Linked DNA regions of Homo sapiens. The protein of the gene in region 1 purifies or fractionates together with the protein of each later gene. This does not show direct contact. Each region holds a gene or a part of one and is shown on either strand. Other genes may lie near its edges.

The links. Proteins that work in one complex are often made in the same cells at the same time.
Region 2: the proteins of MAGEA4 (region 1) and AMOTL1 purify together in Homo sapiens (affinity purification with mass spectrometry; 4 studies listed by BioGRID and IntAct, with this or other methods). This does not show direct contact.

Annotation. Positions count from the first base shown.
Region 1 is NC_000023.11:151,915,877-151,922,904, reverse strand, and holds part of MAGEA4 (melanoma-associated antigen 4), read right to left. Parts: intron 6,669-7,028; exon of another isoform or gene 6,585-6,668; intron 5,981-6,584; exon of another isoform or gene 5,903-5,980; intron 4,618-5,902; exon of another isoform or gene 4,549-4,617; intron 3,996-4,548; exon of another isoform or gene 3,868-3,995; intron 3,313-3,867; exon of another isoform or gene 3,183-3,312; intron 380-3,182; exon of another isoform or gene 274-379; intron 1-273. UniProt on the Homo sapiens protein: Regulates cell proliferation through the inhibition of cell cycle arrest at the G1 phase. Also negatively regulates p53-mediated apoptosis.
Region 2 is NC_000011.10:94,869,338-94,876,365, forward strand, and holds part of AMOTL1 (angiomotin-like protein 1), read left to right. Parts: coding exon 1-136; intron 137-1,351; coding exon 1,352-1,458; 3' UTR 1,459-7,028. UniProt on the Homo sapiens protein: Inhibits the Wnt/beta-catenin signaling pathway, probably by recruiting CTNNB1 to recycling endosomes and hence preventing its translocation to the nucleus.

The DNA of each region.
Region 1 (7,028 bases):
TGGAACCCATGTGTCCTGGATGCGGAGCCTGCTTGGTCCTCACCTCAACTCCTGGCAGAGCCTGGGACCCTCCCTCTACTGACCTGGGTGCAGCCCCCTCAGACCAAGGCCTCCCACTCCGTGACACCAGTGATCCCAGGATAAGAGAGGGACCTCAGCAGAAAGCCAAGCCCATGCTCTCTGGGGTGACAACAGGAGCAGGGCTGATTTCTGTGGGGTCATCATCTGCGTTCTGGCCCTGTGGTACCCTCAATCCTCCCTCACATTCCTCACCAGGACTCTTGGCAGATCCTGGGACCACTGTGTCTGTAGACCAGATGGGGGTCCCTGTGGTGACCTGAGTCACCCTCTGAGAACAAGGTCCTCACCTCACTGAGATCTGGAATCAGAAATGAGAAGGAGCCACATCCTGTCACCCCTGTGTGGGGTGCCCAGGGCTGACCCCTTTGGTTCTGGGGTGAGGGTTCTGATGGCCTCCTGTGGGGTACTCATGTTTGCTCCTGACAGGGCCTGCCCTTCCTCAACCCCCAACCCCCTGAGATGAGCAAACATTGCCCCTTTACTCCAAAACCTCATCTCCCTGAAGGTTCCCCAACTTCCTGCCTGTGGAACAAGTGAAATTGGCACATAGGGCCATCCCTCCTCTGGTCCCCCCTGAGCTAAGAACAGGGGACAGCCAGACTCTGTGGGGTCCCGTCTTTCTGAGCCACAGGTATCCCCATTCCTCGTGAAGTGTGGCACACCTTGGGTCCTGTAGATCCTGGGACTCCTCCCTCTGCGGACCTGAAGTACCACCCCTCAGACCATAGCCCTCTCCTCTCTGTGACCTCGAAGATGCAGGAAGTATGAGCTACAGGTGGCTACCTTGCCCAGGACCTCCCAGGGCCCAGGTCTCCACTGATCTGGAATGCAAGGCCCCCTGAATCCTCCCTCGTCTTCCTTTCCTTGATCCTGGAAGGGCTTGGAACCCACCCCTCTGCTGACCTGAGTTGCCATCCCTTGGATTCCTGAGGCTAAAAGAGGAGGCACCTCATTCTCAGACGGGGTGGGGTGGGCTCCCTGCCTTGGGGTGCTGGGTCTCCTGAGGCCTTCCTCATCTCCCAGGAGGGCCAGGGTCCTCCCTCTGCTACCCTGAGGCTCTGCTCATGATACCAAACCCTCTCCCTCCTTCAGCCCTCGATGTGGATGTCAAGATCCGAGTGCCTGACCATTCCCAGGTCTTCCCGGGGTTGACTGCAGGGGAAAAAATGGATTCTGCAAAACGGAGTTGGGGATGGGGCTGGGCATGTTGGAATGCGGATGGGGTGGGGGTGTAGCGCCCTCAGTTCCCTCTCAAGGTCCTGACCCCGATGCCAGGCAGAGCCTGGGCCCTGCCTTGGGCACACCAAGCTCTTGACTCTAGAGTCCCCTGTAGCTTTAGTGGCAGTGGGAGCTGGGATGGCCTAGCCTGAGAAGTCTTCCCCCGGGTGGTCCAGGACTGGCAGCAGGAGCTGCGCTGGATTATTTGGGTTCCTCTATCTTGGGTGGGGGCCTCCTCAGTCCTTCCTCAGAGTCTCACCTTGCCTCGCCACAGAGCTTGGGCCCGCTCCCCTCAGCCGATCTCAACTGGCCCCTCAGGACTATGCCCTTGATTCTCTGACCCCCAAAAAACATCCCAGCACCAAGCCTGGGGTTTCCCTGGATTGATAGCAGAAGGGGAACTGGATTCTGCCTGGTGAGGGTGGAGGGCAAGGAATGGGAAATGGAGCAGCGAAATGGCAGCGGATTTGTGGGAGTGGGGGTTAGACTAGGATCTTGGGGGACCTCAGTTCCCTCTCAGGTTTCTGACTTTGATTCCTGGCAGGGCCTGGGCCATGCCCTCTCCTAACCAGCCCTTCCCTGATCACACCAACCTCTGACTCCAGAGTCCCCTGTGGCTTAAACAAACGCGTTGCGAAGGGGGCGGAGGTGGGGAGCAGCCCAGTCTGAGAAGTCAGCCTCCGCGGGGTAGTCCAGGGCTGGGACCCTCTATCAGGGATAGGGGTTTCCTGAATCCTCCCTCAGAGTCTCACTTTGCCTCTTCACAAAGCCTGGGCCACCTTCCCTCTGCCGATCTCAAGCCACCCTTCAGACCCAGAAACTCACTTCTCTCTAACCCTCAATTCACAAGTCAGTGGCATCACATCCGGCCACCCAGGGCTTGCCTGGATTGAAAGCAGGGGTGGAACCGGATGCTGCGCTGATGGGGATGAAGGTAGGGGTGGGGGAGGGGGGTATGAGGCTGGTTGGGGGGTTGGGGAGGATAGGGGCACAGGTGGGGAATGGGGGTACAGATGGGGTAGGGAGTGCAGATGGGAAAGGGGTAGGGGATAGGAATGGGGGTGGGGGACACTCAGCCCTCTCCTAGGGTCCTGACGTTGATGCCTGGCAGAGCCTACCCCCACCAGTCCTGCACTGATCACACCAAGCTCTGACTCCATAGTCCCCTGCGGCTTCAGCGGCAGTGGGGTGGTGGGCGTCCCAGACTCAGAAGTCCGCCCACGGGTGGCCCAGGACTGGAAGCAGGAGGGGTGCCGGATTATTTGGGGTCGTCTATCTGGGGTGGAGAGGGCCTCCCGACTTCTCCCTCAGCTTCTCACTATGCCACCTCACAGAGCCTGGACCGGCTTCCCTCTGCCAATCCCAAGCTGCCTGTCAGACTGAGAAGCTAGCGTCTCTCTAACCCCCAATGCACAAGTCACTGGCATCACATCCAGGAACCTGGAGCTTCCCTGGGTTGAAAGCAGAAACGGAATGCGATTCAACCTGGATGGGGATAGTGGTGTTGGGGTGGGGGATGAGGACATAAGGGTAGTGGGGGTTTGGGGAGGATAGGGGTGCTGGTGGGGGATAGGGTGTAGATGGGGTTGGGAGTGTGGATGGGAATGGGAAGGGGGATGGGAATGGGGGTGGGGGACCCTCGGCCCTCTCTTACAGTCCTGAGGTTGATGCCTGGCAGAGCCTGCCCTCACCAGTCTTGCACTGATCACCCCAAGCTCTGACTGCAGAGTCCCGTGCGACTTCAGAGGCAGTGGGGTGGTGGGCGCCCCAGACTCAGAAGTCCCCCCACGAGTGGCCCAGGGCTGGGAGCATGAGTGGTTCGGGATTATTTGGGATTGTCTATCTGCGGTGGGGGCCTCCTGAGTCCTCCCTCAGCGTCTCACCTTGACTCCTCACAGGGCCTGGCCCGCTTCCCTCCACCAGTCCCAAGCTGCTGGTCAGACAGAGCAGCTCGCTTTTCTCTAACCCCCAATGCGCAAGTCAGTGGCATCACATTCCGGCACCTGCGGCTTTCTTGGGTTGAAAGCGGAAGCAGAACCCGATTCAGCGTGGATGGGGGTGGGAGGAGTGAGGTCGGTGGAGGGGGCGCGTTTTGGGGGTGGGTTGAAAGCGGAAGCAGAACCTGATTCAGTGTGGATGGGGGTGGGAGAGGTGAGGTTGGTGGAGGGGCCCGGGTTTTGGGGTGGGAGATGGTGGTGTGAGAGAGGTGCGGGGTTGAGGAGGATAGGAGCCTGGTGGGGGATGGGGGCGCGGATGGGTTTGGGAGTGCAAATAGTAATGGGAAAGGGGAGGGGGTGGGGGATGGGAATGGGGGTGGGGTACGCTTAGCCCTCTCTTAGGGTCCTGAGGTTGATGCCTCGTAGAGCCTGCCCTCACTAGTCTTACACTAACCACCCCAAGCTCGGACTCCAGAGTCCCATGTGACTTCAGACGCAGTGGGGTGGAGGGCGCCCCAGACTCAGAAGTCAGCCCACGGGTGGCCCACGGCTGGTAGCAGGAGTGGTGCGGGATTATTTGGGGTCGTCTATCTGGGGTGGGGGCCTCCTGAGTCCTCCCTCAGCGTCTCACCTTGACTCCTCACAGGGCCTGGCCCGCTTCCCTCCACCAATCCCAAGCGGCTGGTCACAGAGCAGCTCGCTTCTCTCTAACCCCGAATGCGCAAGTCAGTGGCATCACATCCGGGCCCCTGGGGCTTTCTTGGGTTGAAAGAGAAACCAGAAATCAGATTCAGCGTGGATGGGGGTGGGAAGGGTGAGGTCGGTGGAGGGGGCGGGTTTTTGGGGGTGGGTTGAAAGCGGAAGCGGAACGTGATTCAGTGTGGATGGGGGTGGGAGGGGTGAGGTTGGTACAAGGGCCCGGGTTGTTGGGGTGGGAGATGGCGGTATGAGAGAGGTGGGGGGTTGAAGAGGAGAGGAGTGCTGGTGGGGGATGGGGCGTGGATGGTTTGGGAGTGCAAATGGTAATGGGAAAGGGGACGTGGTGGGGGATGGGAATAGGGGTGGGGTACGCTTAGCCCTCTCTTAGGGTCCTGAGATTGATGCCCGGCAGAGCCTGGCCTCACTAGTCTTACACTAAACACCCCAAGCTCTGACTCCAGAGTCCCATGCGACTTCAGAGGCAGTGGGGTGGTGGGCGCCCCAAGCTCAGAAGTCCGCCCACAGGTGGCCCACGGCAGGTAGGAGTGGTGCGGGATTATTTGGGGTCGTCTATCTGGGGTGGTGGCCTCCTGAGTCCTCCTCAGCGTCTCACCTTGACTCCTCACAGGGCCTGGCCTGCTTCCTTCCACCAATCCCAAGCTGCTGGTCAGACAGCAGCTCGCTTCTCTCTAACCCCCAATGCGCAAGTCAGTGGCATCACATCCGGGCCCCTGAGGCTTTCTTGGGTTGAAAGCGGAAGCGGAAACACGATTCAGCGTGGATGGGGGTGGGGGGGAGGTCGGTGGAGGGGGCGGGTTTTTGGGAGTGGGTTGAAAGCGGAAGCGGAACCCGATTCAGCGTGGATGGGGGTGGGAGGGGTGAGGTTGGTGGAGGGGCCCCGGTTTTTGGGGTGGCAGATGGCGGTATGACAGAGGTGGGGGGTCGAGGAGGAGTGCTGGTGGGGGATGGGGGCGGGGATGGGTTTAGGAGTGCAAATGGTAATGGGAAAGGGGACGTGGTGGGGGATGGGAATAGGGGTGGGGTACGCTTAGCCCTCTCTTAGGGTCCTGAGATTGATGCCCGGCAGAGCCTGGCCTCACTAGTCTTACACTAAACACCCCAAGCTCTGACTCCAGAGTCCCCTGCGACTTCAGAGGCAGTGGGGTGGTGGGCGCCCCAAGCTCAGAAGTCCGCCCACAGGTGGCCCACGGCTGGTAGGAGTGGTGCGGGATTATTTGGGGTCTTCTATCTGGGGTGGTGGCCTCCTGAGTCCTCCTCAGCGTCTCACCTTGACTCCTCACAGGGCCTGGCCTGCTTCCTTCCACCAATCCCAAGCTGCTGGTCAGACAGCAGCTCGCTTCTCTCTAACCCCCAATGCGCAAGTCAGTGGCATCACATCCGGGCCCCTGAGGCTTTCTTGGGTTGAAAGCGGAAGCGGAAACACGATTCAGCGTGGATGGGGGTGGGGGGGAGGTCGGTGGAGGGGGCGGGTTTTTGGGAGTGGGTTGAAAGCGGAAGCGGAACCCGATTCAGCGTGGATGGGGGTGGGAGGGGTGAGGTTGGTGGAGGGGCCCCGGTTTTTGGGGTGGCAGATGGCGGTATGACAGAGGTGGGGGGTCGAGGAGGAGTGCTGGTGGGGGATGGGGGCGCGGATGGGTTTAGGAGTGCAAATGGTAATGGGAAAGGGGACGTGATGGGGGATGGGAATAGGGGTGGGGTACGCTTAGCCCTCTCTTACGGTCCTGAGATTGATGCCTGGCAGAGCCTGGCCTCACTAGTCTTACACTAAACACCCTAAGCTCTGACTCCAGAGTCCTCTGCGACTTCAGAGGCAGTGGGGTGGTGGGCGCCCCAGACTCAGAAGTCCGCCCACAGGTGGCCCACGGCTGGTAGCAGGAGTGGTGCGGGATTATTTGGGGTCGTCTATCTGGGGTGGGGGCCTCCTGAGTCCTCCCTCAGCATCTCACCTTGACTCCTCACAGGGCCTGGCCCGCTTCCCTCCGCCAATCCCAAGCGGCTGGTCAGAGCAGCTCGCTTCTCTCTAACCCCCAATGCGCAAGTCAGTGGCATCACATCCGGGCACCTGGGACTTTCTTGGGTTGAAAGCGGAAGCGGAAACCCGATTCAGCGTGGAAGGGGGTGGGAGGGGTGAGGTCGGTGGAGGGGGCGGGTTTTTGGGGGTGGGTTGAAAGCGGAAGCGCAACCCAATTCAGCATCCATGGGGGTGGGAGGGGTGAGGTTGGTGGAGGGGCCCCAGTTTTTGGGGTGGGAGATGGCGGTGTGAGAGAGGTGCGGGGTTGAGGATAGGAGTGCTGGTGGGGGATAGGGGCGCGGATGGGTTTGGGAGTGCAAATAGTAATGGGAAAGGGGAGGCGGTGGGGGATAGAAATAGGGGTGGGGTACGCTTGGCCCTCTCTTAGGGTCCTGAGGTTGATGCCTCGTAGAGCCTGCCCTCACTAGTCTTACACTAACCACCCCAAGCTCGGACTCCAGAGTCCCATGCGACTTCAGACGCAGTGGGGTGGAGGGCGCCCCAGACTCAGAAGTCCGCCCACGGGTGGCCCACGGCTGGTAGCAGGAGTGGTGCGGGATTATTTGGGGTCGTCTATCTGGGGTGGGGGCCTCCTGAGTCCTCCCTCAGCGTCTCACCTTGACTCCTCACAGGGCCTGGCCCGCTTCCCTCCGCCAATCCCAAGCTGCTGGTCAGACAGAGCAGCTCGCTTCTCTCTAACCCCCAATGCGCAAGTCAGTGGCATCACATCCGGGCCCCTGGGGCTTTCTTGGGTTGAAAGAGGAAGCGGAAATCAGATTCAGCGTGGATGGGGGTGGGAGGGGTGAGGTCGATGGAGGGGGCGGGTTTTTGGGGGTGGGTTGAAAGCGGAAGCGGAACGTGATTCAGTGTGGATGGGGGTGGGAGGGGTGAGGTTGGTACAAGGGCCCGGGTTGTTGGGGTGGGAGATGGCGATATGAGAGAGGTGGGGGGTTGAAGAGGAGAGGAGTGCTGGTGGGGGATGGGGCGTGGATGGTTTGGGAGTGCAAATGGTAATGGGAAAGGGGACGTGGTGGGGGATGGGAATAGGGGTGGGGTACGCT
Region 2 (7,028 bases), on another chromosome or scaffold:
ACACAGACTGACAAGAGTGCCGAGCTCTTCTGGCCCAGCATGGCCTCCCTTCCCAGCCGCGGCCGGCTGAGCACGACCCCTGCTCACAGCCCCGTCCTGAAACACCCAGCGGCCAAAGGGACCGCAGAGAAACTGGGTATGTGGGCTACCCCACCTTGATGCCCCTGAAAACTGTGGAACTGTCTGGCCTAAGAGAATCTTTTGTTGAGCTAGAGAGGAAGCAGGGGCACCCATCAGCTCTTACTCTATGGGGATGCTATTCTAATGCACTTAGGATATGTGTGCCCTTTCTTATTACGGGAATAAATATGCATATAGACACATCTAGTTTATTACTATTTGAAATGAGTGCACGGCTTGAGACTACCCTGGCAATGCATACTTTTTAACTAACCTTTCCCCGGATGGAGTGACAACAGACCCTCTAAGGGGCTGAATGCCCTCTGGTATGTTTGGGAGCCAGAATTAGGCACCAGGTACATCAAAGGCACAAGTTCACTGTTGCCTTCAGGGCTCTAACTTACCAGGGATTCTGGCCTCAGTGGAGGACATTGTGATGGAAGGAGAAGGTAGATTGACCTGCAGAGTCGGTTAACGTGTGGCACAGCACTTGGGCCAGGACTAACGAGCTGTTTAAAATATTTACGGGAAGACAACTTGGGAGAGGTGATCTTTGCAGTGAGTCCCTAAGTGTCCTGGGTAAGAATAGACCTGGCCTCTTAAGGCACTCCTCTTAAGCAAAGGAGTACCATGGCCATGGTCAGTGGGATCCCACAAATGTTCTTAAATGGGTAAGGCTTTAAGTAGCCAGAGAGTACCCAGCCTACCATTGGCTTCTCCACATCCTAAAACCTGAGACTAATCATGGTCATGGGGACCTCCCTTTTCAGGAATTCTTTTGAGGAGGTGCAGGCTCTGTGGGCCCTAAGTTAACTGTTTCCTCCAAGGGGGTTGTTTATTTCATTTTTCAAAGTAGACAAGTAAATACAATGTTGTCACTTTTTAAAGATGTGATTCTTTTCCAAGTAAGCCAGAGAACCTGTCAAAAGTGCCTAGCTCAGAATATGCACCTGATAGTTTTGAGTAGAGGGTGTGAGGGGCTCCTGTACAGAGTCCCACTGTCATCCTCACCTTCTGAATCCTCTCCCTTCACCATCCTGGTTTGTATTTGTGTCTGAATCCTGGCCCAGTCATTCTGCATGTTCCCACTGTGGGCTGGATCATCTCACATGCCCTGTGGTGAGAATCCTGGGTGTGCAGTGGTATCGGACGTGGGTCCATTTTAGAGAACCTGGAAAGCCTATGCCCCTCCTGAGGAATGGGCAGCTGATGTTTCCCCTCTATTTGGCAGAGAACTCTCCTGGCCATGGGAAGTCGCCTGACCACAGAGGCCGGGTCAGCAGCTTGCTGCACAAGCCCGAGTTCCCTGATGGAGAGATGATGGAAGTCCTCATCTAACTGCCATCCCTGTGGAATTTCAGTACAGAACACTGACAAACAAGGAAAGCGGCAGAGAAAGAAGAAAGACCTAGAAGGTTGTAGATGGGAAATCAGGAATGATTTGAACTGATAAAGATTTCAGACTCATAAGAACACATTTTATAAATGTTAAACACAAAAACTACATGACTGAAGATAGAAGAGAATGCGATGGATTTTATTACACATGGTGGAAGAGAGAAGAGGCGTGTAGGTTTGCAAACAAAGTTAAGAAATAGGAAACTGAATTTTTCATTGTACAGAAAATGTATCTCTTGGGGAGGGCCTGTGTACCCCCATTCTCTGATTATAAACAGATAAACCCAAATGTGGATCATCCTTGGAATACCCCCATTCTCCTTGCCTCTTAGCATGTTTGATTTAAGAAAAGCCTCCAGGAAATCTTGAGAGCCTGTCTTGGCATAATGCAGTGTCACCTGTGCCAACCATGGGGTGTCCCGTGAGTGTGAGTGTGGCAGTGAGAAGAAGCATCGAGGGCGAGGGGAATATGAAAGTTGGTCTTCACCTAATTACCTGTTTGGTTTGGATTTTCAAGAGATGATTGGGCTTCTTAGCTTTTCTGAATTCTGCAGTATTTTCTAAACAGGATAGATTATGATCTCGGTCCCCATCCATCCTAACTTCTGAGTTCATCTCTGTCTCTGCTTTACAGTCTTTAATTTTTTGTTGTTCCTTCATTTTTTTCTTTTTAATAAGACATAGCAGAATTCCTTAGGTATGGGATTTATGAGACCAGTACCTGAACTGTCATCATTCCTACTGTGTTTGATAGTGACCAGTAGGACAAAGCCACGTGCCGACTTCCTGGCTGCTTCACCTTTGCATAGCTGGGTTGCAGCTGCGAACCTCATTCTGACTGTGAACTAAGCAAGCTTTGAGGAGGCAGGAGATTCCGTGGGTCCCTGTGACATATTGCATTAAGATCGTGGCACTTGCTTTTTTGTCTTTCACATCGGCTGTCTTGCAAGGAGCTTGACATTTCCAAATTCCATTGCTCTGTTTGGGGAAGACTTAGGACAGCACTCCAGGAAACAGATGACAATTTACAGACAGTTGTCTCAGTGGTTTCCAGAATCTCACCAGCCTCCCGTATAGCTTCTTGTATTGAGGCTCATGAGCGTATTCACACTCTTTCCTCCCCCGCGCACGCCTCTGCTTGCTCTCGATCAGCATCCAGACCTCCGTGGCACCAGGTTGCCTCTGTTGTGAACTTCTTTTGTAACCTACCAGGCCAGTTGTATATACAGTGTTGTCAGGTTTTTCCGGGTTTCAGTTTTGAGGCAGTTTATTCAAAGTGAGACAGAAGTGCCACGGAAAAGAGGCAGGAGTGTGTTAGGTGGTGGGTCCATTAGACCTCTGCTGTGACATTGCATATTCAGCTCTGCAGACACTGGCTTCCTTTACAAATCTAAGAGATGCTGGATTAGAAAAGAGGAGAAGCTCATCGGGCCATCAGAGAGATGCTCCTACAGGGTCCTGATGTTTTTGTACCTCCAGGTCAGCTGGATCGCTGTTTTCCCAGTTCCCTTTGCTCATGCTTACTTAGAGGAAGAAAGAAAGGGGGGTACCTCTTCCAAGTACCTTCTAAATGAAACACTCAAGAGAGTGCTACTCAGGAAACTTTGCTTGGATCCTAAAATGGACTGGTCTTGGGTGTGTAACCCCGGTGAAGTTATAGCCTCCCCAAATTGAGGTGACAGAAGGAAGACAAGAGGTGTAAGCTGGAGAGGGAAGGGAAGAAATCAGTGGCTTTGGCCAGCCTCTGTGCCACCCAGTACGACAGAGGAGTGGGAACTGGCCCTCTGGGGCTCTGCTTGGCCATAGGCACTGCACATTGTGCCACCTGCTCATCACCTCCTCTAGTCTCACACTGAGCATCGGAGTACCTGTTGTGCAGACAGGAAAACTGAGGAGCTCTGAGAGGCTGAGCATGGAGCTCACCCCATGCCATAGGGTGTGGGAAGAGGGCACAGGAGGCCTCATCCATGGGGGAAAGGGTTGAGGATGGACATGGGTGGGGAGAGGGCATAGACATCCCTTCCTAATCTCTGTTCCCACCACATTTCATAGGAGATGAGTTAGGAGATGACAGCTAACTCTCTTAAGGACATTTTGACCCCAGTTTATGTTGGGGATGGACCAGAAAGGAAAATGTCTAGAGATAGGAAGGTAAATCAACTCTGCCAGCCCCTACCATCAGGTCTGGGCCACCCCAAACTTGGGCTGCCTCCCTTAGACATAGGTTAGAGTGAGAGACCCAGCTGTTTCTCCCGAAGCCTCGTCTTCATGCCCCAGACACCTGATTGCCCCAATCAGGTGTCAGACTTGCTTGCTCTTCGAGGTCCCCCTGAGCTGCCAAGTGTTTTCATTGTAAACAGACACATCGCCATGTTTCAGGGCTTCAACGGCATTGTATTTTGGACTTTGACCGTATTTTTTTTCTCTTAACCTACTGAGACTCTTCCTTAAGAACAGGATCTATAGCTTTAAAATGTCTTCTTCTATGGGAAATTTCCTGCCAAGCCAGGGCACTAAATTCTTTCATCATTAGAGCTTTCCTGAAGTCCGGCCATATACTGAGTACCTGCTCTGAGTTCTGGGCAGCTTACAATATCTTAAACAGATTTTCAGAAAAATAATGCAACTATATTTTCTAGTGTCAACTGTATGCAAACAGTGTGGTAAATACCTTTTAATTAGTCCTCCACCCACCTGGAGTACAGGGGGTGCGTTTATTATTCTGATTTCACTGATGAGGAAATGGGCTCAGAAAGGTTAAGTCCCTTCCTGAAATCTCACAGCCAGGAGAAGCTAGGATGATTTAAAACAAAGTTTGGAGAGGCACTGGGCATAGACCCTGGCTGTACAGCCTCTAACATGCGGCACTGCATCTTGGCAGTCTCTATGCCTGTCTGTGATGTGTGTGTGCACGTGTAACTACACACACACACACACACACACACACACACACACACAGCTATCACACATCTCAGAGCCTAAGAAATAGGACTAAGCCCAGAACTCCTAGAATCACCTATAAATGCTAGGCATAGATGGAAATTATTGTGTTCCACCAGAAGCACAGCTCCAAACTATACCTAAAAAATATTTCTGCACTTCCCAGAGACCTGGACTTCAAACTTTCCCAGTGGAGCCTGATTATAGAACTTGAGGGTCCTATCTCAGGATGAAGGGGAGAGGCCCTGGCTTCACGGGAAGGTATTCCAGCATTGTTCTGCTTCACCCTTGACTGCGTTGTCTGGCAGTTTCTGTGTGCTGCCAGGATATTATATGGAACTGGAGAAGTTGGAGTCAGGTCTCTGAAGCTAGAGTTTCACTAATTAGATGCCTCTGTACATGAGAACTATTACTGTCTGCAGGTCCATATAGCTAAGCTGCCAGGAAAAACACATTATCTTCCAAAACTTTCAGAGCATGTGCAGAACCCTTTCTTAGCGTTTTCTTCTCAGCATTTTCTCTGCCTCCCAGAGGCTGGCAGCCAGTGACACTGCAGAGTTCAGCATGTTCTAACCATGCACGCAGGGCAGGGGCTGCCTTGGCCCTCCTCAGGCTTTCGTTGGGAGAGCAGGCAGTGGTGGAGCCCTTCTGGGTGCAGTCCTCTGGGGTTGCTCTTTGGAACTCATGTATGAGTTTGACTCCACAAGGCTTGGCATGGATACCAAAACAGTTGCAACAAATTAGTTCTGAACCTGGAACAGAGAATTCAGTGCTTCTGTTACTCAGGAAGGAGGTGTTCAGAATGCCCCGTGCAGAGCAGCCAGTCATTACTCTTGTTTGTTCTCACCTGGGTGCGCACCCTCATGATGCAGTGGCTGTAGCACCTTCATGCCAGGTGCTGAGAGAATGGGAAATTCTTCCTCCCCATTGACCTGAGTCCCAGAGACTTAGGGACACAGACTTCAGGTGAGGCTGCGGACCTCAGAAGCAGTGGATAATAGATTGGGGCATTAAAAGCTTTTGAGGCAGGGGGCTCATGTTTTGACTGCAGGGAGTTATGCTGAGCAAAGAGATGTGTTTTTCAAAACCAGGGTTCAAAACCAGTGTCCACGCTGGAGTAAGTGGAGCATGCTTCTCTGTGTTCTCTGAATGATCTTGCACTCCTCTTAAGCAAAGGAGTACCATGACCATAGTCAGTGGGATCCCACAAATGTTCTTAAATGGGTAAGGCTTTAAGTAGCCAGAGAGTATCCAGCCTACCATTGGCTTCTCCACATCCTAAAACCTGAGACAGCCTTGGTATATGCTTTATAAATGTTTCTTTTCTTGTTGTTTAAGTAATTAAAGTGTTTAAAATGTCTTCATTAGATGTGACGATTGTTTAATGAGTTTGCCTCTGACGTGTGGCTCCATGGGAGATAGGCAAAGTAATTAAGAAGTTACCAGAAATTGGTCGGCTGGGGAAATGCAAAAGTTAGCATTTCAGTAGTGAATTTCTCCTGGAACAAATGAGCAATTTTTCCTCTTTCTCTTAAGTAGTATACCCTTTTCTCACTTAGTAATTTAATGGTATATAAAGACATGTGTATAAGTGAGTGCATACATATGAGGTATGACTATAGGGTTGTTTGTGGGAATTTCTTTTCCTAACATACAGAAGATCAAAGTGTTCATCTCACCCCGCCCTCCTTAAAAGGTGTCTTTTGGGAGACTATGTGCTCATTGACTATAGTGCTGCCAAGTAAAAATATCTTGGGAACTCTTCTACTAGAATGGCCTTCAGGGCTTGGCATGTTCCTTTGGTTTACCCTTAGAGATGAGAAATCCTCCTCCTTTGAGGATGGATTTAAGTTCTGGAAATAATCTCAAGTGCTTGATAGCACAGTTGGATGAAAAAAGATGGCAATTAAGGTAAGTTACACCATTTTTGTTTCTAAAAAAATCCCTAAGAAATTTCTTGGAATGAGTCTTTGGCCTCAGAGCCTCTCAAAGTGTCCACTTCAAGGGGGGATCATCCTCATTAGCACACAGATTTTTAAAAATCAATTCTCTTGCCATGCCTCCTATGTGTTCACATCTCTGCATACACTACAGATATAAGTGCATAATCATTCATATAAACATCTGGTAGGTATTCTGTAAAACTGTGTTTACTTTAGTGCATGTTATTGTCATGTTATGATGTGACTGGGGTGTTTCTTTGTCATGAAACTTTGCTTCTTCACAGAATTAGAATACTGCTCTCTCTATATTGAACTACATATACAGCGTTTTCTTGTATCAGCCCCCAAAGTCTGGATGCCCGGTGTTGTGTTTACATGTGATTGTGCCTAGGAGTCTGTTCACATAGAGACACCTGTAAGTATTTATTACAAAACGGAATGTAAGCAAATATATCCACATTGGTTTTATTTGAATCAAGGTGTTTTTTTGTTTTTTGTTTTTTTTCCTTTTGAGGAGGAACAGGGAGCCTCCTCCTCCATGAGCACTTACAGAATTGTGTAAAATTCTGTGAAACAGTGGTAAGCATGGGCACCCGATTTCAGCTGTCCTGCTGCCGCTGCCCTCCA